Linked DNA regions of Homo sapiens. The protein of the gene in region 2 interacts with the protein of the main gene of each other region in a pairwise test. Each region holds a gene or a part of one and is shown on either strand. Other genes may lie near its edges.

The links.
Region 1: the proteins of EXOC3L1 (region 2) and ARL14 interact in binary tests that used the Homo sapiens proteins (3 or more experiments, as listed by UniProt).
Region 3: the proteins of EXOC3L1 (region 2) and CEACAM6 interact in binary tests that used the Homo sapiens proteins (3 or more experiments, as listed by UniProt).
Region 4: the proteins of EXOC3L1 (region 2) and KRT27 interact in binary tests that used the Homo sapiens proteins (3 or more experiments, as listed by UniProt).

The regions. Positions count from the first base shown.
Region 1 is NC_000003.12:160,673,139-160,678,948, reverse strand, and holds ARL14 (ADP-ribosylation factor-like protein 14), read right to left. Parts: upstream 1,790-5,810; 5' UTR 1,603-1,789; coding exon 1,024-1,602; 3' UTR 501-1,023; downstream 1-500. UniProt on the Homo sapiens protein: GTPase that recruits MYO1E to MHC class II-containing vesicles via the effector protein ARL14EP and hence controls the movement of these vesicles along the actin cytoskeleton in dendritic cells.
Region 2 is NC_000016.10:67,183,879-67,187,187, reverse strand, and holds the end of EXOC3L1 (exocyst complex component 3-like protein), read left to right. Parts: intron 1-49; coding exon 50-167; intron 168-303; coding exon 304-429; intron 430-530; coding exon 531-631; intron 632-840; coding exon 841-951; intron 952-1,697; coding exon 1,698-1,827; intron 1,828-1,929; coding exon 1,930-2,052; intron 2,053-2,130; coding exon 2,131-2,286; intron 2,287-2,377; coding exon 2,378-2,502; intron 2,503-2,583; coding exon 2,584-2,794; 3' UTR 2,795-2,809; downstream 2,810-3,309. UniProt on the Homo sapiens protein: As part of the exocyst, may play a role in regulated exocytosis of insulin granules.
Region 3 is NC_000019.10:41,758,494-41,765,544, forward strand, and holds part of CEACAM6 (cell adhesion molecule CEACAM6 preproprotein), read left to right. Parts: intron 1-533; exon of another isoform or gene 534-868; intron 869-2,755; coding exon 2,756-3,034; intron 3,035-3,475; coding exon 3,476-3,730; intron 3,731-7,051. UniProt on the Homo sapiens protein: Cell surface glycoprotein that plays a role in cell adhesion and tumor progression. Intercellular adhesion occurs in a calcium- and fibronectin-independent manner.
Region 4 is NC_000017.11:40,779,551-40,787,512, reverse strand, and holds the start of KRT27 (keratin, type I cytoskeletal 27), read left to right. Parts: upstream 1-4,962; 5' UTR 4,963-5,019; coding exon 5,020-5,463; intron 5,464-6,242; coding exon 6,243-6,325; intron 6,326-7,056; coding exon 7,057-7,213; intron 7,214-7,651; coding exon 7,652-7,813; intron 7,814-7,885; coding exon 7,886-7,962.

The DNA.
Region 1 (5,810 bases), on a different chromosome or scaffold from region 2:
ACCTGTACCTTTGTAGGGTCACTGGGAGTGAGGGACCCTCTAAAATACCATCTCCTGCATGAAACATTTCTTGTTTCCCTGGTTAAAAAGAGTATCTCCTGCAATCGCACTTAGCACTTATTGCCCTACTCTAGCTACTAGCTTTATGTTGTTTCCTGCTGTGAATTGTAGGTCTCTGAGAGCAAAGTCTAGGTCTGGTTCCTGTTTGATCAGTACAATGAGCTGCACATATGTTTCCAAGCAATGGCTGTTAAGCTGAATTCCAAGGAAGCAAGACTCGGGGCTGTAGCCTAGAGCTAAGCCCTGAGCCCAGATCTTGCCCTAAACTCCAAGGTGCTACCCCGATCACCAGACCTTTAAGTTTATACACTTCTGCTCCCTATGGCAGAACACAGGCTCTGAGCAATTAGCAGCCTGAAGTTCATTGTTTAAGATTCATTGGAGGAAGTTCCCAGCAATAGATTTCAAAAAGCTGGCAGGAATCCAGAAGAACAGCTTTATTTAGGGAATAAGAAAGCTTTATTTAATAGGGAATACGAATTTACAAGATATTAACATTACGCTTTTTCCACTCCATAATTTGAAGTTCATTTTTTACACCACCCAGCTGTTACATAGGAGCACGGTGGAAATTCAATACCTGTTACAGCTGGAAACAATCTGGAAGAATTCTGACTCTATTAGCAGACAGCTTACTAAAACTTTGTTCTAGTAGTCATATAAAATAATTTATTTGGTCCCAAGTGTCACTACTATATTCAAAGTCATCCAATGTGATAACAAAAATTGTAGAACATTATACGTTTTCATTCCCAGTGATCATTGCCACAGTTTGCTAAAGTTCCTGGCTGAAAATAAATATTTTCTAGATATCATTCTAAGTTGTTTAACTAAATGTAGATGAAATAACATCTCAGGAAAAGTTTGTCAACTCATTAATTTGATTTCCTCATTTGGCATGGAAAAACAATTACCCTTTCAACTTCATCAGTGTCTCTGTAGAGACTTGGATTTTTCGCAGCCTCAGTTCTGCTTGAAGAACGCCAAAGTGTCTCCTCTTGATTTCATGTGGCTCTTCACAAATCCAGTTAATTTCCTGAACCCCTGGGCCAGCCCCTCCCCTGTGAGGGCACAGCAGGGTTGCACATACCAGTTCCGGTCACTGCAAAGCTTCTTCACTTTGAACATTCTGGTGATGTCCTCAGCAGTCAGAGCTCCAGGCATGTCTTGTTTGTTGGCTAATAGAACAACAGGCACATTTTTAATGTGTTCATTCTTCAAAATGTGCTCAAACTGTCTCTGAGACTCTTCCAGTCGCTGTTTGTCTGTACTGTCCACAACATACACCAGCCCATCGGTGTTCTCACAGTAACAGCCCCAAACAGTTCTCATTTTTTCCTGTCCTCCAACATCCCAGACTGTGAGTGAAAGATTCCTTTCCAACTCGATCATTTCCACATTGAAACCTATTGTAGGGATGGTGGTAATATCCTTAGCAAGCTTTAATTTATAAAGGAGAGTAGACTTCCCAGCTGAGTCAAGTCCCAAAAGAAGAACTTGGGCTTGTTTGGTTTGCGGATTTTTAGAACCCAGCGAACCCATTTCAGCCTTTTTCTCTCTCTGTCTCTAAATACCTTTTTTTTTTTTCTTTCTTTCTTTCTTCGAATGGCCAGAGACAATGTGTCCTTTCTGGATCTCACATGAAAATGTTAGGAAGAAAGAAGAAAGCAAATTCTTCATGCTGTATTCTAAGAACAAGAACCTAGATGTGTTTATGTTGTAGCTTATCAACTTGATTATGGGCAAACAGTATTTTATTTGCAGTCCCAGCCAATCCTGAGGGATCTGTGGTATGAGTAACCAGCCAATGCCATGGTGACTCAAAGGGGAAATTCTCTGTGAATGAGTAAGATTAGGAGAGGCCTACCTGGCTGATGCTGCAGTTTTGTTTTCTTTCAGGTGCTAGAAATCTAGAGGAACCTGAAGGTTCAGACACGCAGAGGAGCATGGTTTAGTAGCAGAATAAAAACTTAACTTTTCATTTTAACTAACTTTTAACTTAAATTTAACTAAACTTTTTGTGTAACTTTTTGTGGAACTTCTCTAGGTATTCAACCATTTATCTTATCCCAGTTGTAAATAAGGAACCAGGCTTCTTAAGTTGTGAAGAGAGAGTTATTCTCACACTCTGTCTGCAGTATCTTAAATCCGCCTTGTTCAGATTACTCAGTAGGAAACTTTAAACCACTCAAGGTTATCTGAACCTTACTCCCTAATCACATACAGAATCACTTTCTTTAAAATTCTAGGCAGAGAATTTACACTACTGCAGTCACAAAACCAAATATATGAGGGGGAATTTATAACACGAACAGTTTTACATTAAGCAGTCCAATTAAAGATGGCAAATAAAAACATGCATTTATTTCCTCTCCTTCCCAAGACTCCACAGAATAATGGTAAAGGCATTAAAAGAACATATAGGCCAGGCATGGTGGCTCACGCCTGTAATCCCAACACTTTGGGAGGCCGAGGTGGGTGGATCATGAGGCCAGGAGATCAAGACCAGCCTGGTCAACATGGTAAAACCCCATCTCTACTAAAAATACAAAAAAATTAGCTGGGCGTGGTGGCCCGTGCCTATAATCTCAGCTACTTGGGAGGCTGAGACAGGAGAATCGCTTGAACCAGGGAGTCGGAGGTTGCAGTGAGCCGAGATCGCACCACTGCACTCCAGCCTGGTGACAGTGAGACACTCCGTCTCAAAAAAAAAAAAACAAAAAAAACATATAAATCCATAACAAAACAGCAAGATAATTCATCAAAGGGTCAGAAATTTTAACAAAATTCTGGAAAATGGAAACTAGATGGAAAAATGAGTGATAACTGATATAGCAGGATAAAGCCAAGGCTTGGAGTGCTGATGCAGAGGAGATAGACAAGAGGTGACAGGTATGGCAGACAGAAGGGGTGAAATAAAGGACTAAAAACAGCAGAAGGTAACAAGAAGCCAAAATAAACAGAACACACACACACACACACACACACACACACCCCTCTGCTGGGTGTCTTCAGCAACTAGATGTTTATTCCCAGGCAAAATACTGAAGAGTTTTTTATTAAAGAAATTGAATGATCTCAGAAAAAAGATCTCCATGTTTTGACAGTTGGGAGTTTCTGACCATAATGCCAAAGTCAACATGTAATTAACCTATAGCCAACCTGGCAGTTGGCAAACTTGCTCACATACATAGAATTCCCAATCAGCTTTGCAGTGCACAGAAGTTTCTATACTTAATGGATAGCATGCCTTCAATATGAATAAGAGAGAGACCAAGATAAAAATAAGAACTTTTAAGAAAGCTTAAACAGAGCTAATGAAGGGAACAGAAGAACATTTTCATTAAATTCTAATTACTATTTTTATACAGACTTGAGAAGATATTACATCCATAAGACAAGAAATGGATGGTATTAAACAGACCACTCAGAGAATAAAAACAAAACTCCTAAAAATTAAAAACACAAATTTCAAAAAATTTTAAAGATCAGTAATACCTGTAGGCTGGAAGACAATATTGAAGGAGTCTTTCAGAAAGTCGAAGATAGAAAATACAGAAGAAAAGATAAGACATATAGAGGATGAACTCAGAAATCTTAACTCAGAAGTCTGATTTATAGGACTTATTCCAGAGAGAAAAAAAATATGCACAAGAGGAAATTATCAAGAAATAATATGGGACCACTTCCCAAAGCTAAAGAATGAACTTGCCAGATTGAAAGACTTCCCTCAACGCTTACCAACATGATTTTTAAAAGAGCTATACCATGTGATATACATGTTTTCTTATTAAAACTAAAAATTTATTTAGAGTTTTTACACAAAATAAGTAGACTATTTTAGATGCAGAAAGCACACGTATGAAGAAATTCTGTAACCTTTTATAAAGAATTAAGTTCTTAACCAACTCACTATATCTCAGAGGCTAAAGATACTGTTTTGATTTGTTCATTGATTTATTCATCTAACCATTCAGGAAATAAACATATTGATGGCCTAGTCTGTGCTAGATGCCAGAGAGATCACAAAGATAAACTAGGCTTGCCTTTAGTTGACTTTCACTGGGGAGAAGGTAAAAGATATGTGACCAAATAAAAATACATACAAAGTCAAAAAATTATACATGCTACAAGAAAAGAAAGGCTAATGTATTCTAGGTATTCACAGACTCTTTCAGAATGAAAGGCGTCAGAGAAATCTTCCTGGAGAAGGTTAAGTATTGAACCAGGCCTTGTAGAGACACGTGAGGGCATACATGAAAGAAACAGTCTGTGAGAGCAAAGTCTTAGAAATGGGAAAATATGGGGATGTATGTGGAAAACCAACTGTATATGGATAAGTAGGGGTTTCTTCCATAAACATTTTGAACTATCATGATAAAACCATAAGATAAATCTAGATTATAGGCCATGCTGCAAGACAACAGACTTGGACTCTACAAGGTAGGTCCATGTCATGAAAGACAGAAAGGAAAAAAAGGATCGGGGGAAGAATGTTCTAAATAAAAGATACATGACTACTAAATGCATTGTGTAAACTTTTATTGGATCCTGTGTCAATAATAGTGATTAAGGAAATTACTATAACAATTATGAAAATTCAAATTGGGGAAACTTGATTATGAACTGTATATTAGATGGTATTATTTATCAATGATAAATTTCTTGAAGGCAATAATTCAATTGTTATGTAGGAAGATGATTTTGTTTCAAGGAGATACAGGCTAAAGTACTTAGGGGTGATATCAGCAAGTTAATTTCAACTGGCTCAGCAAACACATGCACACAAAGATATGTATGTATATGGGAGGGAGGAAGTGTGTGTAAATATGGCGATAGTTGGTGGCTCTAGGTCAGAGGTATTGAATGTTCATTTTACTATTTTTTAACTTTCCTCTAGATTTGAAATTTTTCAAAATAACATGTTAAAAAAAGAATATAATTGAAATAAGCTAATAAAATTAGACTGTAGTCCATAGTAATACAGAAAATAATTCAGCTTACTTAGGGGTAAGTCCGTACTTCCAAAGGTGAATTTAGGGACTTTGACTGCACTACTGCTTAAGCTCTTTCTCACCTCCATATTTCAACAATTAAAATTTTTGAAAGAAGTTAAACATTTATTTTATAATAAACTCAATGATTTGAGTGCTTTATGAGGTCTACCGTTGGTATTGGGGACATCCTTTAATATATTTTTGCTGTAATGAGCATGATCATACATATATGCCTTCATTGTCTCCCATCTGACCAATTATACCTTGTTTTCGGGATAGCCAAACAAATGAGGGCTTAAATTCTGCATGAATATTATATCCACATAAGAATATGATTCTCTTCTGTGAAAAGAAATAAGATAATTTCTTTGTCAATGCTAATTGTCATGAAAGAATCTACAAATGTTTCAATATCCTTTCTTACTGTCCCAAAACATTTATGGATTCATGTGTCCCAGCCAAACTTGAGGGAAGGCAAGGTATTTGTTTTCTGTAAATCATTCTAAGATTACGCAAATAAAGGTAGACTTGTGAGAGAGTTACTGGCAGGCTAACTGTGGTGTCACAGGAAATTTGTTTTAAAATATGGGAATGAAAGAAACATTTTCTTTAATTTCTTACCATGGAGGTGTGAGGCAAAAAGTCCTAAGCTCAACCATGTATGGACCAAGCAAAAATACAGACACTTATCTCTTGGAAGAAGGTGCAACTTATTCCATTATCTTTATTTTTCACAGATAAGAAGGAAGAATC
Region 2 (3,309 bases):
AGGCTGGGGGCTTGGTGGCTTGGTGTGACACCAGGCCACCTATCTCCAGGCAGGAAATGATGGGGAGCCTGGAGTTGGGGCCTGAGGCTGATGTGTCCCAGCTGGAGCCCCTTCTGACCTTGGAGAACATTGAGCAGCTGGAGGCAACATTTGTGGCCAACATCCAGGTGAGTAGTTGAGGCACAGGTCCAGAGAAGTCCTACTTATCTGCTGTGGGCCTTTATCTGCAGAGTGGAATGTCTACCCATCTCCAGCAGGGTCAGATCCCTGCTACATTCCTTTGCCCCTGGCCCCTCCCCCCAGGCAAGTGTGTCTCAGTGGCTGCAGAATGCACTGGATGGGGAGGTAGCTGAGTGGGGCCGGGAGCATGGGCCCAACACAGACCCGTCTGGCTCCTATTACTCACCAATGCCAGCCATTGTGCTGCAGGTAGGTGGGAAGTGGCCAGACAGGCAGGCAGCCTCCATGGGGCAGTGGGGAGGAGAGGAAGGAGGGAGGCTTTGCCGATGGCTGCTCATTTCTGCCTGCAGATCCTGGAAGAGAACATTCGTGTGGCCAGCCTGGTCAGTGAGTCACTGCAACAGCGAGTGCATGGCATGGCACTGTCAGAACTGGGCACATTCTTGAGGAGGTTTGCTGAGGCACTGACCCATTCCTGATCCCTATCCCTGCTCCCCAGGCAGCCCAAAGGGGCTCTGAGTGAATAAGACATGTCACAGGGAAAGGGCTCTTTCAAACAAGGACTTGGGTATCTTGGAGGTGGGACAGGAGTACCAGGGACTGGGGCTGTGGGGATGCCAGCATAGCAGCAAGTCCAGGAGCCACCTCTGCCCATTGCAGCTTCAGTGATGCTCTGATCCGATTCTCCCGAGACCACTTCAGGGGGAAATCAATGGCCCCTCATTACGTGCCCTACCTACTGGCCGCCCTCAACCACAAGTCAGCACTCAGGTACCAGAAGGCCCCCAGGGAACCCCACCTTCACTAACCCCCTATTGAGTACCTATTATGTATGGGCTCAGCCCACACTAGGACACTAGGGACTTTGGACTCACATCGCCCTGGGGTTCCAATTCTAGTTCTGCTAATTACTAGTTGTGTGACCTTGGATGAGTTACCTAATCTCTGTGAATCTCACTTTTCTCATTAGTATTATGGGGGTACTAATGGAATGTTCTGAGAATCACATGAGATAACATGTAAAGTGGCCACCATAGTGCCTGGCACATGGTGTCAATTGTTCATTCGTCCAGCAAATATTTCAAGGCCCTACTCTGTGCCAGTAATGTCTGGGGTTACAGCTGTGTGTATACACGCACACACACACACACTCCCTTCCTCTTGGGTGGTATGTTCTTTTTGGTGGGGGCAAGGAAAACAAGTGATGATTTTTTACTCCCTCCTCACTGGGATACTTCCCTTCCTTTACGAATGAGGAAACAGAAACCGAAAGAATGTTTTCCTCAAGGACGCACCGCGAATTTGAGGCAGGTCTCGCTGGGCTGTGTCCTTTGCAGCTCGCCAAGCGCCCGTCTCCCAGCCCTGGTCCATGCCTGGGACCAGAAGTGCAGAGAGCCGCTGTTCTCGCTCCCTCCCGTCAAACACTTGCCCCACAAGGTGGCGCCGGAGGGTCTGGACCACCGAGGGCCATGCGGGCCTTGGCCTTGGTCCTGAAGCCGTAGTTTTGCTTGGTCCAGCTCCTCAGTGTCTGTCCTGCAGCTGGACGGGGCGCCTTCAGGGGCCTTGGCTCCAGTGGAAGCTGCGCTGGACGAGTTGCAGAGGAGGATCTACCGCTTGGTGTTGGAGGCGCTGCAGGCGGAGCTCCAGGTGAGGCCTCCTTCAGGTCAGGATGGGAGCAGGTGGAGAGGTGGCGGTACAGCTACGTATGGGGGTCTCCGCGGCAATGCCAGATCTGGATCATTTCCCCAGCCCCTGTTCGCGGATCTGCCCTCGCGCCAATGGCTGTCGAGCCCTGAGCTCCTGCAAAGTGTGTGTGAACGGACGGGGCGCTTCTGCCGGGACTTCTGGCGCGTGCGGAACCCCACGGTTCAGGTGGGTTGGGGGAAAAGATTGGGGAAGGGGCGGCGCGGGTGAGAGGCGACCTGCACCCGCCTGATTGCCTCCCCGCAGCTGCTGCTGGCTGAGGCCGAGCGTGCCGTGGTGCTCCAGTACCTGAGCGCGCTGATGCAAGGCCGCCTGGTGTGCCGCGGAGCCGACGAGAGGACCCAGGCGGCCGAGCGCCTGCGGCACGATGCTGCCCAGCTTCAGCAGCTTTTCCTCAGTTTGGTGAGAGCTTCTTGGGCGGGCAGACGGGCGAGAGTCTCAGTGGCTGGGTGGGAGAGAGGGCTGGCGCGAGACCCTACCCCGACGTGCTCAGGGCCTGGAGGAGAACGCGCACTGCGCGCCGGTGCTGCTCGCCCTGAGGGAGCTGCTAAACCTCCGCGACCCCGCGCTGCTGGGCCTGGAGGTGGCTGGCCTGCGGCAACAATTTCCCGACGTGAGGTGCGGACTGGGGGCCAGAAGGGAAGAGAAGCCGGAGGGCGGGGAGGACGGGGCTGACGCGCCTCCTTGGTGCCCCTGCAGCGAGGACCACGTCTCCGCCCTCTTGGGCCTGCGCGGGGACTTGTCCCGGGAGCAGCACCTGGCCGCGCTCAGCTCCCTGCAGGCTGCGCTGCCGCCGTCGCCCCGCGCGAGCCGCCGCGTCCTCTTCAGCCTAGTGCCCGCGCCCGCGCTCGCGCCGGCCTCCTGCCTGCCCTCGGGGTCCTGCGCCCGAGCCCTGCTGCTCGCAGAATAAACCACGGCTGCCGGACGCCTGAGTCTGTGTGTGTTGGGGAAGGTGGGATGGAATAAAAGTGCCCACGAGGGTTGAGGGAATTCTTGCAGAGTGACACGCTTAAAGTATCCTGGCTCCCGTCCTGGTACACGGGCTGCGCCCCGCCTATGCAGGCATCTGCCCTCTGTGCAGACTGCGTTCCCGAGGCCGCGGGCTACGCCCCCACGTCTCCGCGCCCAGGCCGTGAGCAAGAGTCTCCGCCGCCCTGGCCGCCTGGAGCCCCTGAAGCCCAGCAACTCGCTGTGGCCTTGGGAAGGGGGCGGGCCCAGGACCACGAACACCGCCCCCTCAACCCTGCCTGGCTTCGCTCCCAGTGGCCTCGGGGGCGCGCCGCCGCGGAGACTGACGCGAAGCCCCACGCTTTCGTAAGAGCGTGCGCGCGCCCGAGGACGTACGTCATCGGCGACGGCTCCCGCCGGCTGGGCGTCCGGTGGCCGGTGTAGCAGAGCGGGAGCGGCGGGCGGCGAGCAGAGGAG
Region 3 (7,051 bases), on a different chromosome or scaffold from region 2:
CCCCTGTCCCTAAACCTACCCCATCTCATGTGACTCTGGGGTTCCTTGGTCATTAGAGGGTTTTCAGGTCTCCCTGGTCCTGGTCTGGGGCAGCCAAGAGGCTCCTGGTCCCTGGGGTCTCTGAGGTCACTGTATCCCCCACTGCTCACTGCCATGGGTATCTCTGGCTCTTTCTGCTCCTCTCTGTCCCTCATTTTCCTCCCCTTTCATTCTAGCTGGGATGCCCTGCCCTGCACAGCTTCCTCCACCCTTAGGCCTTCCCCAGAAAACCCCTCTAACAAGGCTGGCTGTCCTGTTCCCTTCCTGCTCACACTGTGTCCTGGCCCACATCCCAGGCAACAGAGAAGGCACAGAAATCAGCCGGAGCAGCCGCCCCTGCCGGGCTCCATCACGAGCCAATGTCCCCAAGTCAACAGGAGAATGAGCTTCCACTGTGTCCCCATCCAGGGCTCTTTCCCCCAGTGAGGCCGACATGTGGAACAGGCCACGGGACAGGGACAAGCGACTCCTCCATACAGTCTCTACTGACTCACCAGGCAGTCAGAGGCAGGATGACAGGTCTGCTTTCCCCAAGGCCCAGAGGCTAATTTCATCCATTGACTTCCGTCCTCATCTTGGTGTGAGGCTCACATCCTCCAGTCATTCCCCAGGACCTTCCCCAGGTGGAGCCGGCCAGGCAGGTGCTGTCTGATGGGTTTGCTGCCCATTCCACATACACTACTGTGTCCTCATGATGATGCCATTGTCATAAGGTGGGGTCCCTTGGACTGAGAAGTGCACCAGCCACTGGAGTCTCACATAGACTCTGCCCAGTTTAGATGAACTTAAACTCTCATTGTGTTTTCTCAGGTTAACAGGAGAGGAAGAAAGCATTTCACATGACTGTTTGGGGCTCCTTCCCTATTTGCCTAACTGCACAGGAATTAGGGGCAGGGAGCTCTTTCTAAATTTACTAACATAACACACGTTGCTTCTAATTTGGCATCGTTCCTTCCTTTATGTAACTGACACACACCTAAGACTTCCTCTCCTACTGGTTCTATCCTCCTAAGAGGACTCATATGCCTCTCTCTACTCAAGGAGTTGCTAATTTCAAACCAACTTCAGCATCTTCATTTGACGACAATATGATCCTGCTGGAATTCACAGCACACCTAAACCTTAGTATGTTATCAAGAAAAATACTACTTCCAGCCCTTGATCTTTGATCTTTAGGACATTAGTAACGATCTCCACTTATGGAAAAAATTAAATGTTTCCCCCAAAGTTCTTTTATTTTTTACTATATTCAGAACATAACATGAGGTCTAAACTCCTGACAAACTTTTCAAAGCAAATTACAACACTACAGGTCAAGCATCCCACATCCAATAATCCAAAATCTGAAATGCTCCCAAATCTAACACTTTTTGACCACTAAAGTGATGCTGAAAAGAAATGCTCACTGGAGCATTTTAGATTCTGGGTTTTCAAAATTAGGGTGCTAAACGGGTAAGTCTACTGCAAATATTCAAAAATCCAGAAACAGTCAGAAATCCAAAACACTTTTGGTCCTAAGCCTTATGCGTAAGTGATACTCAATCCGTATGAACTATAGGTACCAAGCTGTACAGCAAATCTCTAGAACCTCATCCTGTGTATAACTGAAAGCGCACACCCATTGACTAACTCCCCATTCTGCCTCTCCCAATCCCTGGCAACCATGATTCTACTCTGATTCCATGAGTGTGACTACTCTAGGGACCTCATATAAGTGGAACCCTACAGTATCTGTCCTGTGAGTGACTTATTGCATTTAGCATAATGTCCAATGGGAGAAAATATTTGCAAAACTTCTCCTCAAATTTCTGTCTCATATCTGTCAAACACACATGGTCCTTGAGAGTCAGATTTGCAGCATTTCATGCTCCCCCTTTCCACCACTCAGCTGTGCATTTGCAAACATCCACATGTGTTTATGGAGAGAGCCACAGGGTCCTCACCTGCCCTCCGCAGAGGGAGAAGAAACATTAAAGGCCAAAGAAAAGGAACACGGTTCTGCTGGGAAATTCAGGCAGCTCCTGCCTGTCCCCCTCACTGTCTTCTAGATCATTCTCTGAATTCTGCTCTATCTGTAGGTGTCACAGGCTCAAGTCAGTCATTATTAAACACCTGGGAAAAACTGCCCCACCTGTGGTTCCACTGCCTGATGACCGAACTGACCTCCAGGCTTGCCCCTGGTGTCCCCTGTGTTATTTCTGCTGAAAGGTCCAATCCCAGGCCAGGCTGCACAGTATCCTTGGGGTTTAAGGACAATAAGAAGTCCCATCATCACCCATCTCTAGAATGTCCTTAGAAAAGGAAGCCACACAGAAAATACAGCTAGGGGGGCAAAGTAGGACTAAAGCTTGAAAAGACCCAGCACCTGAATGTTTCAGGTGAGGACTCCAAGGGAAGCCAGGCAGGCAGCTGGTCAGGGAGAAACCAGGAGAAGCACAAGGGGCTGTGACCCCGGGTCCTGTGTCTGTCCATGACCCAATGCTGCTGCTCAATTCACACTTGAGAAAGACTGTGCTTCTCCCACACAGAGCAGGTGATCTCACACAATCTCAGCCCTCAAATCATCGTGCATCTGTTGTGTGACACACACACCTGCCAGGGGCTTTTAAGGACTCAAGGGGGCTGAGAGGTGAGAGATGCCAACTCTGATTGAAAGATGCCTGTGGAGGAATCAAAGGTGCCACACAGGGCAATCTTCTCTCTGTTTTCTGCACAGCGGAGCTGCCCAAGCCCTCCATCTCCAGCAACAACTCCAACCCCGTGGAGGACAAGGATGCTGTGGCCTTCACCTGTGAACCTGAGGTTCAGAACACAACCTACCTGTGGTGGGTAAATGGTCAGAGCCTCCCGGTCAGTCCCAGGCTGCAGCTGTCCAATGGCAACATGACCCTCACTCTACTCAGCGTCAAAAGGAACGATGCAGGATCCTATGAATGTGAAATACAGAACCCAGCGAGTGCCAACCGCAGTGACCCAGTCACCCTGAATGTCCTCTGTGAGTATCTTCTGTTCCTCTGTGGCCCAGGCTGCCAGCCCAAATCCACACAGCCAGAGTCCAGGTCTCTCAGTCCCTCTCAGGTCTAAGGACTCAGACCCTCACCCAGGCTGGCCATGACTTCCTGCCCTGAGCAAACCTGGGCAGACCAGGCCTTGACCAAGAATGGGAGGGGAGGGGCTGTCTCCTGTGCTACTTCTGCTCAAACACCCATTCCCATCATCACTCATCTCCAGGATGTCCTTAAGGCTCAGGGTTCACATTTTCTGATGGGAGAAACAGGTGAATGTCTCAGACTTTGGCTCAGGGGACATAGCGGGGGTTTGGTTGAGACTTCAGGGTTGTGACATGGCTCAGGGGGACACCGTGGCCCTTCCACAGACCAGGAACTTATGCTTCCCTCTGACAACATCACCTGTGGCTTTATTCTGTTTCCTCCAGATGGCCCAGATGTCCCCACCATTTCCCCCTCAAAGGCCAATTACCGTCCAGGGGAAAATCTGAACCTCTCCTGCCACGCAGCCTCTAACCCACCTGCACAGTACTCTTGGTTTATCAATGGGACGTTCCAGCAATCCACACAAGAGCTCTTTATCCCCAACATCACTGTGAATAATAGCGGATCCTATATGTGCCAAGCCCATAACTCAGCCACTGGCCTCAATAGGACCACAGTCACGATGATCACAGTCTCTGGTAAGTGGATCCATGAAGCACTAGCATCACATTTTCAGGTGGAGTCTGGCTCTCAGAGAAGAGCCAGGAAGAAATTTTCTTTCCCAACCTGTGTCCAAGGGGCACACGCAAATCCCAAATTCTCCCCTGAACCCTCCCAATTCACCTCTGCAGACTCTTTTCCCCTTGTTTTTTTGTTTTTTGTTGTTTTTTGTTTTTTGATTTCTCATGTCTGACTTTGGGTCCATCCTGGAATGAGAGGAGGGGGCTCCCTCAGCACTGAGCCCTGTGTAGTGAAAGGGGCTTCACAGAGAAAAAAGGAGGAAGGGTCCTCAGGGTCAAGTTCCTGCTCTCTGTCACCAACAATTCCCTTTCTGTCACTTCTTTGTGTTCTTTTACCTACTCCATAAGCTACAAGGGACAAGGAGGTTTTGAAATGAGCTCACACTTTTTCCTTAAATGAGAAGAGGAAGCCCCTTGGGTGATGGAGGAGCAGCTCAGACTCTGCCCCCATCTCTGCTCCCAGCACCCCCAGTGACTGACTGACCCCACCCTGAAGCCACCTAAGGTGGAACCAGGGCATATGGAGAAGGTGCCCAGGTGTCTGTCCTGAATCAGGCTAAATCAAGATGCTAATCAACACCAAAGCCTCCCCTGGATCAGGCCGCAGGAAAATGGGAAGACATGGAGCCTCATGACAGACTGCTGAGCTGTGTCCTGGCTCTGAAGTCACTGGCTGTATAAGACTGTGGGCACAGCACATGGGACACAGCACAGAGGACAGCAAGTGACGCACACTTGGAGACATAGGGAGATTCAGCCATGGGGACTCTGCATGGCAGGGAAGGGGCAGTGACAAAAAGTGTGTATTTATAGAGAGGATAAGACTACCAGCCACTATGTATCTAATATAGGACTTACCTTTTCAACCCTTCCACGTGTGCAGGTCCGTAGTATTAAACACATTCCCGTTGTTCTGCTACCATCACCACCACCCACCCACAGAACTCTCTTCTTCCTCCCAAAATGAAACTCTGTTCCCATCAAACTCCTGGGCAGAGCTGCCCACCTGTGACCCACAGCCTGACCCCTGAACTCACCTCTAGACTTGCTTCTGGTCTCCCGCTCAAACCCCCATCCCCATCATCACCCATCTCCAGGATGTCCTTAAATAGCAAAGCCTCAGAAAAAACACACCTTGGCTGGGTGGTGTGGGACTGTGCAGCTGAAAGAAACAGCACCTGCATGTTCCAGGTGAGTACCCCAAAAGACCAGGCAGTCAGCCAGTCAGGGAAGAAACAGGAGAGGTGCCAGAGGCTGTGGCTGTCAGTCCTGTATCTGCCCAAGACTCAATGCTTCTGCCCTATTCACATTTGAGAAAGTCTGTACTTCTCCCACACAAAGCAGGTGGCCTCGATCTCCGAGCCCTCAGATCGTTGTGCATCCGTCTTCTGACACACACACCTGCCCTGGGCTCTTAAGGACTTGGGTGGACTGAGGGGTGGGAGATGCCAACTCTGACTGAACGATGCCTGCAGAGGAATCAAAGGTGCCACACACGGCAATCTTCTCTCTGTTTTCTGCACAGCGGAGCTGCCCAAGCCCTCGGTCACCAGCAACAACTCCAACCCTGTAGAGTTTTCTACATATAAGTTTAAGTTATCTGTGAACAGAGATAATTTTACTTCTTTCCGATTTGGATGTCTGTTTATTTGTTTGTTTGCTGCCTAATTTCTCCAGCTAGGACTTAAAACACTATGTTGAAGAGAAGTGGGGCAAGCAGGCATCCTTGTCTTGCTCCTGGTCTTACAGGGAAAGCTTTCAGTCTTTCTCCATTGAGTATCCCTCTATTATGTTGAGGTGGTTTCCTTCCATTCACAGAGTGTTTTTATTTATAAAAGAATGTTGAATTTTGTCAAATGCTTTTATTGGCTAAATCTTATTACTAATTATAGGTCTATTCAGATTTTTTTGTGTGTTCCAGGAATTTGTCCGTTTCATCTAGGTTATCCAATTTGTTGGCATACAATTATTTACCGCACTCTTTTAATCTTTATTATTTCTGTAGAATTGGTAGCAATGTCATCAATTTTTTTGAGAGTAGGTCTCACTCTGTAACCCAACCCAAGCTGGAGTGCAGTGGCTTGATCATAGCTTACTTGCAGGCTGAACCCCCTGGGCTCAAGTGATCCTCCTACCTCAGCCTCCTGAGTAGCTGGGACTACAGGCATATGCCATCATGCCTGGCTAGTTTAAAAAAAAAAAAATGTGGAGACTGTGTCGCCCTATGTTGCATAGGCTGGTCATGACTTTCTGGCCTCAAGCAACCCTCATCCTCTGACCTACCAGGGTGCTGGAATTAAAGGTGTGAGCCACCATGCCCCCATTTTCATTTCTGATTTTAGTAATCTGAATCTTCTCTTTTTTTCTCAGTCAACCTAGTAAATGATTGTCAATTTTGTTGATCTGTTTTGAAGAACCAACTTTTGGTTTCATTGACTCCCTTTATTGTTTTTATAGCCTCCATTTTATTTATTTCAGTTATAATTCTTATTGTTTCCTTCATTCACTATCTTTGGGTTGATTTTGTTCTTTTTCTATATCCTGAATTTGTAAAGTTAGGTTGTTGATTTGAGGTCTCTCTTTAATGTAAGTATTTACCACTATCAATTTCTTGCACAAGATTCTTAACTTCTCTGAGCCTTCAATTCTTCAACTGAAAATTGCAATAATTCTCATCACTAAGAAATGGGTGGAAAAAATGAAAATTGAAATAACAATGCCTGTTTCATAGTATCGTTTTGAAGATTTAATGTAACATTTGATTAAGCCTTCAGCAAAATGCCACACACAAAGAAAAGCTTCACAAATATTAGCTATTATTATTACTACTGTTACCATTAACCTTAAAGTCAGGTAGTCCTAGAGTCAAATTCTAAATCCACTTGTCACTAACCATGTGACTTTGGATAAGTTTTCTCATCACCCTAAGCCTCTGTCTTTTCATCTGTAAAATGGAAATAATGTCTACCCAAGAGAGTTACTGTATAAATCAAATGAGATACAGGTAAAGTATTTAGCACAGGGCCTGGTATCTAGGACATGCCCCTCAACAGTAGCTAACCTAGCATTAACCATCGCACTGAGATGACTGGTGAGGGCTAAGCACCAAATGGAAACTCACTAGGACATGGTTACTGGCTAAACATGGGAGAGAGGAAAAACAGTGCAAAGAATCAAGCCTGGTATGTTAGCTTTCATCCACTGAGATGCAGCCAAGATGGGATTAGAGGTACAAGATAATTCACTGGGTAAAACAGCCATGAGGGAAGGTGGAGCAGC
Region 4 (7,962 bases), on a different chromosome or scaffold from region 2:
TCACAGGATCTAGGCCGTTCCGTTCCCTTCTGAATTCATGGAGGACCCTTAGTTTAAAGTTAGAACGATTTTCTAAGTAGTTTAACCCCTGTTTTCTCCGTATCTTTATCTCTCATGCCACTTTCTTATGCAATTAAAACTACCAAGAAATCATTTTCATCTATCCCCCTGAAGTGCTCACTTTCAGAATCTCCTGTCCTCCTATGCAACATTGGCTGTTTTTTAAGCCTGCTACCCAGCTGTCATGTGGGAACACTCACTCAGTGCGCTCACATTGGAACTCCATTTCCAGGAACCTAAGTTTTCCTTTTTCATGTTTTTCTCTCTAGTGGCTTCCTGACAAAATGTGCAAAAGAGATAATTTTTTTGAGACCTTTCATGTCGGAAAAGATTTTTATTCCACCCTCACTTGTGGTTGTTAAAGTAGAGAATTTTGGTTCTCTACATAAGTCACAATTAGAAAAAAACTTAGAAATGAGGTGACAAACCTTAGGAAAGGATTAGAAATAAAAGGTTGGATATCATTTTGCGTTCACTTTTTTTTTTTTTTTAAGAGACAGCATCTCGCTCTGTCAACCAGGCTGGAGTACAGTGGTGTGATCACAGCTCACTGCAACCTCCGCCTCATGGGTTCGAGCAATTCTCTTGCCTCAGCCTCCCAAATAGCTGGGATTACAGGCACATACCACCATGGCCCAGCTAATTTTTGTATTTTTAGTAGAGACGGGGTTTCACCATGTTGGCCAGGCTGGTCTTGAACTCCTGATCTCAAGTGATCCACCTCCCTCGGCCTCCCAGAGTGCTGGGATTACAGGCGTGAGCCACTGCGCCTGGCCTGGGTTCGTATTTTGAAAGCATTCTTCACTAGAATGATGGCTTTCCTAAAATTGAATATGTGTTGGTTTTGCTCCTGACATTTTAAGTGTTTGTTTGTCGCCCCCGCCCCCAGCCATGGTTCTCTGAAAGATCCTGTGGATGTGCCTCACTGTGGATGTTTTTCATTTATCATTCATGGTTCTTGGTGGTCTCTTTGAATTTAGAAGCTCAGTTGTTTAGTTCTGAGTAGTATTTCAGAAAATATGTTTATAAAATAATTTCTTCATGATTTCTCCCTTCTCTCTTTCCAGAAGACCTACTTGATGTTGTTCTTCTTTGACCAAGTCTCTCATTTTCTTTTTCTTTTTTTTTTTTTTTTTTTTTTTTTTTTTTTTTCTGAGATGGAGTGTTACTCTGTCGCCCAGGCTGGGGTGCAGTGGCGCGATCTCGGCTCACTGCAAGCTCCGCCTCCCGGGTTCACGCCATTCTCCTACCTCAGCCGCTGGAACTACAGGCGCCCGCCACCACCGCCGGCTAATATTTTTGTATTTTTAGTAGAGACAGGGTTTCACCGTGTTAGCCAGGATGGTCTCGATCTCCTGACCTCGTGATCCGCCCACCTCGGCCTCCCAAAGTGCTGGGATTACAGGAGTGAGCCACCGCGCCCGGCCCAAGTCTCTCATTTTCTAATATTTTCTTTTATCTGTAAACAAGTTCTCTGAGAAGGAAATTCAAGGACAGAGACTTCATTCCAGCAAACAGCTAGCAAGCTGGTGAGACACAGCCTTTGGTGTAAAATGAAAATGTGTTCCAGAGAACAAAGGAAGGGAATTTGTCTTTTAGAGAAAGTTCCCACCCAGGTTCCCACTTAGGTCTGCTTATGCAAAATGCAGGATTGAAATTTACTTAGTTCTGGTTGGTTGATGTTTGCTTAGTTAGCTCTTATTAGTCAGGGCATGCAGACTTCTGATTGATCCATGTAGGTTACAGCCTATTGTTTGGTTCAGGTGGCATAAACTGGAAGCTATGAAAGTCCCAAAGTTAAGCAGATGTGCACATTTTCTGGGAACTCAGAGTAAATATGTGACCTGTAGTCAGCAAATGGTTGCTTGGTTTTAATTTGAATTTAGGCCCAGTTAGCTGCTCAGGACTCATCTTAAGAGGCTGGTTCTTTACGCCAGGCACGGTGGCTCACACCTGTAATCCCAGCACTTTGGGAGGCCGAGGCTGGCGGATCTCTTGAGGTCAGGCATTCGAGACCAATCTGGCCAACATGGTGAAACCCCATCTCTGCTAAAAATACAAAAATTAGCCAGGCATGGTGGCATGTGCTTGTAATCCCAGCTACTTGGGAGGCTGAGGCAGGAGAATTACCTGAACCTGGGAGGTGGAGGTTGCAGTGAGCCAAGATCGCGCCAGTGCACTCGAGCCTGGGTGACAGAGCAAGACTCAGTCTCAAAAAAAAAAACAGAGAGAGAGAGAGACTGGCTCTTTCAAGGCTCACATATTTATCTTTTCATCTTTTTGTTCTAATTTTGGGGAGTTTTTTTTTAAATTTATTTTCCAATTCATCTATTGAAGTTTTCTTTTGGGACTTAGTTTTTAATTCTAAGAGGTCTTTTATGTGCTTCCTGTTCAATTTTAATGATGTTCTATCCATGTTTTAAATATACAGTATTTTTGTTACTTCTGAAAGTAATAATTATAGGTAGTTTCTTTTTTAAAGTTTTCTTCAACGTTCTTCATTATCTCTGTTTCCCCTGAGTGCTATTTTTTGTTTGTTTGAGTCTCTGTCTTTCTTGTTGGAGTGTTTTTCAATGTATCGTGATATTTTAAATTATGTTCGTTTTGAGTAAGACCTTAAACATTTGAAAGCTTTGTGTGAAGTGTCTGTGTTTCCTTCCAGAGTGGTTGTACAGTGAGCTCCCTTTTTGTGGAGAACACTCAAACAATTCTATCTGGAGGTATTTTCTCTGAGATTCTTCAGCTTCCTCAGAGAGACCCAACAATTCGGGCTGGCTACATAATTTACAAGGCCCAGTGCAAAATGAAAATGTGAGGTCTCCTGTTGAAAAGTCAGAAAAAAAGTTCAGTTAGAAATATTAAAATAGGTCCAGCGCGGTGGCTCAAGTCTATAATCCCAACACTTTGGGAGACCAAGGTGGGTGGTCTGAGGTCAGGAGTTTGAGACCAGCCTGGCCAACATGGTGAAACCCCGTCTTTACTAAAAATACAAAAATTAGCCGGGCATGGTGGCAGGCACCTGTAATCCCACCTACTTGGGAGGCTGAGGCAGGAGAATCACTTGAACTCGGGAGGCAGAGGTTGCAGTGAGCCGAGATGGCACCACTGCACTCCAGCCTGGGCGACAGAGCGAGACTCCATCTCAAAAAAAAAAAAAAAGAAATAGTAAAATATAAATCTTTTTCTTCTAAAAAGTCTTATTATTTATAACATGTAATGAGGTAACGGGTACACATATATAACAGCATAAACTACAAACAGCAAAGAAATAATGTTTTGGTGTCCTAATTTTATGTAAAACAATAAACCATAATACTTTAATAATGTATTAAATTGATTGACAAATCTTTCTGGCTTTTTTTCCGCAAGCTCATTTATTAAGTCATGAAAATTTATATTTTTGCCAACTTCATTTTCAATCTAGGTAATTGAAAGTGATGTCAATCATTCTTGGCAAATGCAAGATCTCAAATGATTTGTTATAATTTTTAGTCTGAAGAAGAAAACCAGGTGGAAAGAATAACATGAACAAAGGCAAAGAGATGGGAAAGAGGGAAGTAGTAAAACAGAACGGACAAGTCAGTGCGGGAAAATTTACATTAAGACAGTGAGGTGGCTCCTGCCTATAATCCCAGCACTTTGGGAGGCCAAGGTGGGAGGATCTGTCGAGCCCAGGCATTCAAGACCAGCCTGGACAACATGGCAAACCCCAACTCTACAAAAAAATACACAGATTAGCCAGGCATAGTGGCGTGTGCCTGTAGTCCCAGATATTTGGTAGGCTGAGGTGGGAGGATCACTTGAGCCTGGGAGGTTGAGGCTGCAGTGAGCTGTGATCATGTCACTGCACTCTGGCCTGGGTGACAAAACGAGACCCTGTCAAAAAAAAAAAAAAAAGAGAGAGAGTCGTAAATACCAAGCACAAAACTATAAGAAATGACAAAGGTAGGGCACAGGAGCTATAAGTGGAAGAGAAAAGGGGAGCAACATGAGATGTAGAAAATTTCTTAGAAAGCAACTGTCTGAAACTCGATCAGACTCATCAGACTGAGGTTGTCAGTATTGAATGTAACCAAGAGGGTATAGGGGAAAAAATAAAAGAAATGATGATTAGAGATGTGCAGTGATGTCTGAGAGGTTAATTTCAGTAAAATAGTGGGACCACAATTCAGAAATAAGAGGTGAAAAGTACAAGAAGCAATGCAGAAAAGTGCTATGGAAATGGACAGCCAATAGAAGGAATGCAGAAATATGAGCAATCTACAGACAGAAAGTGAATATAGAGACCACAGTCTAGACCCTTCACTTTACAGATGTGGAAACTGAGGCCCGAGGAGGTGACCAATTCCTTTACTTAACCTGGTTAGCAATGGAACTTAGACAGAAAACCAGTACAGATGAAATGGTAATTCAGGAAGGATAAGGATCAAAGGAACACTTTCTGTCTCCAAAGAAGATTCCCTTTAATGCCTCAGTTTTCCTTTAGGACCTCCCCTCCTTCTTCTGATACTATGATACTTCATTGCTGAAGAAAATGCAATGCTGATTTGAGCAAGGGAAAGAGAAATCTGTCTATCATACTTTTTTATTCTTATAGGTATTATGCATTCCTGAAGCCTGGAAGACAGGAAGAGTTACTCATACTAAATTTGAAATGCATCACTATAATAATCCTGATAATACTCCACCCTGTCCAACTCCAGAGATAACAAATAACCCCACAATAACTATCCACCTACAGAAATGGACACAGTATGGTAAAGCCATTCATTAAAAAAAAAAAAAAATCACCCCATTATGGATAATTCACAATGAGCTGGCAAACATCATTTGGCTATGAGCAAAGCTCATCAAGAAACACCCTAATAATGTGTATATAAAGGCAAACCAAGCTGTTTGAGTAGGCCGTTCACCATCAGAGCATCACCGCAGAAACAAAGGCTCCAGCCTCCGGACACCATGTCTGTGCGCTTTTCTTCTACCTCCAGGAGACTTGGCTCTTGCGGGGGCACTGGCTCTGTGAGGCTCTCTAGTGGGGGAGCAGGCTTTGGGGCTGGAAACACATGCGGTGTGCCAGGCATTGGAAGTGGCTTCTCTTGTGCTTTTGGGGGCAGCTCATCTGCAGGAGGCTATGGCGGAGGTCTGGGCGGGGGAAGTGCTTCCTGTGCTGCCTTCACAGGGAATGAGCACGGCCTCCTCTCTGGCAATGAGAAGGTGACCATGCAGAACCTCAACGACCGCTTGGCCTCCTACCTGGAGAATGTTCGAGCCCTAGAGGAGGCCAACGCTGACTTGGAGCAGAAGATCAAGGGGTGGTATGAGAAATTTGGACCTGGTTCTTGCCGTGGCCTTGATCATGATTACAGCAGATATTTCCCAATTATTGACGAACTTAAGAACCAGGTAAGAAACGCCATGGCGTGAGTGTTAGCACTCCTGAGAGTGTTTAGCCACTCACAGATGCACAAATGTATAAGCTATCACAATAACAGGGCTTTGCCCTCAGCTTCTAAATTTTAGGAGTTCATTTTCAATATTAAAAATAATTTCTAATAAATTCTAATATTTGAACATGGCACGTCCATCATGTAGTATTAGGTATATGCTTTTGGTAATATTAAAATATCAAAAGCTGTCCAGTGTCTCCAGTTATATATTTATAGGCTTTCCCATAGAAAGAGCTTTTTTTAATGCTTGGGGTGGGAAATACAAGAGACCATACCCAGCCAGGCACAGTGGTTCAGCCTGTAATCCCAGCACTTTGGGAGGCCAAGGCAGGTGGATCACTTGAGATTAGGGGTTCAAGACCAGCCTGGCCAACATGGTGAAACCCTGTTTCTACTAAAACTACAAAAGTTAGCCGAGCGTGGTGGCACATGCCTGTAATCCCAGCTACTTGGGAGGCTGAGGCAGGAGAATCACTTGAATCTGGGAGGTGGAGGTTGCAGTGAGCCAAGATCGTGCCACTGCACTCCAGCCTGGGCAACAGAGCGAGACTCGGTCTCAAAATAAAAGACAGAGAGAGAGACCATACTTAAATTACCCATCTTCAAAAGAATGGTCTGATTATTAGAGACAGATGCCAGAAATATTACTATAATTTCATGGGTAATTTTATTTCAAGGAACTTTGAAATGCATCTTAAATATTTCCTCAATCTTAACTAACTTTTCATTTGTCAGATAATTTCTGCAACTACCAGTAATGCCCATGTTGTCCTGCAAAATGATAATGCAAGACTAACAGCTGATGACTTCAGACTAAAGTAAGTAGAGCTGAAGATAAATGGGAAAAAAAAGTTGTCTAAGCATTTTTTCTCCTTTATTCTTCTAAGTTATTTGACGTTGTCTCAAGCCTTTGTTCTTGTTTATTCATGTATTTGTTTTAAACAAAATGCCTGTTAGAATGAGTAACTAGCTGAGCAACAAATTTTACTTGGGAAATTTCGGGACTAACAAAAACGAGTGTCAAAGTCATATGAGAAAGAATTTTGGCTATTCCCATTCTCTTGCTTCAATGAAATGTATTTATTGCATGATAGATGACCTAACTGAAATGTGTTTTTTTAATTAATTAATTTATTTATTTATTTATTTATTTTTTGGAGACGGAGTCTCGCTCTGTCGCCCAGGCTGGAGTGCAGTGGCGCAATCTCGGCTCACTGCAAGCTCCGCCTCCTAGGTTCACGCCATTCTCCCGCCTCAGCCTCCCGAGTAGCTGGGACTACAGGCGCCCACCACTGCGCCCGGCTAATTTTTTGTATTTTTTAATAGAGACGGGGTTTCACCGTGATCTCGATCTCCTGACCTCGTGATCCGCCCGCCTCTGCCTCCCAAAGTGCTGGGATTACAGGCGTGAGCCACCGCGCCCGGCCTGAAGTTTTAAGTATTATCTTAGTAGTTTTACCTCAAAGCTTAGTCTGAGTTGTATGATGATCTAAAAAGTGATGTGCCATGTCTAATGACTAATGATGAAACTTCCAAATACTTTTCTAAGGTTTGAAAACGAGCTAGCGCTTCACCAGAGCGTGGAGGCGGACATCAATGGTTTGCGAAGAGTCCTGGATGAGCTGACCTTGTGCAGAACGGACCTGGAGATCCAGCTGGAAACTCTCAGTGAGGAGCTCGCTTACCTCAAGAAGAATCATGAGGAGGTAGAAGCTCCACCCGGCTGGCTCTCACAATCGCCTCCCTACCAAATTTTAAAACTAATTTCAGATGATAAATATAATGTCTTAAATTAACATTCAAGAAGGAACCTGTCAGTTTCTCCATAAGGCTTAGATTGTTTGAGACGCTTCTATTCATTCTTCTCAAAAGAAACAAACCTCCCAAAAAGTTTCTAACCCTATAGATCTTGTCCATCTGACTCCTTTAAAAATATTCAGGCCAGAAGCGGTGGCTCATGCCTATAATCCCAACACTGTAGGAGACCCAGAATGGAGGATCGCTTGAGGCCAGGATTTCGAGGCTGCAGTGAGTCATAATTGCACCACTGCATTTCAGCCTAGGCATCAGAGCGAGACCCTAACTCAAAAAGTGCAATAAATAAAATATTCAGATCCTAATTCCGTTAAACAAATATCTTTCAGGAAATGAAAGCTCTTCAGTGCGCGGCTGGAGGCAACGTGAACGTGGAGATGAACGCGGCCCCCGGGGTAGACCTCACGGTTCTGCTGAACAATATGCGAGCTGAGTACGAAGCCCTCGCAGAGCAGAACCGCAGGGACGCGGAGGCCTGGTTCAACGAAAAGGTAAAACCACGCTTGGGTGCGCCCGGGCGCGGACTCAGCCCCAGCGCCCTAACGCGGCCCCTGCCGTTCCAGAGCGCCTCGCTGCAGCAGCAGATCTCTGACGACGCTGGCGCCACCACCTCAGCCCGGAATGAGCTTATCGAGATGAA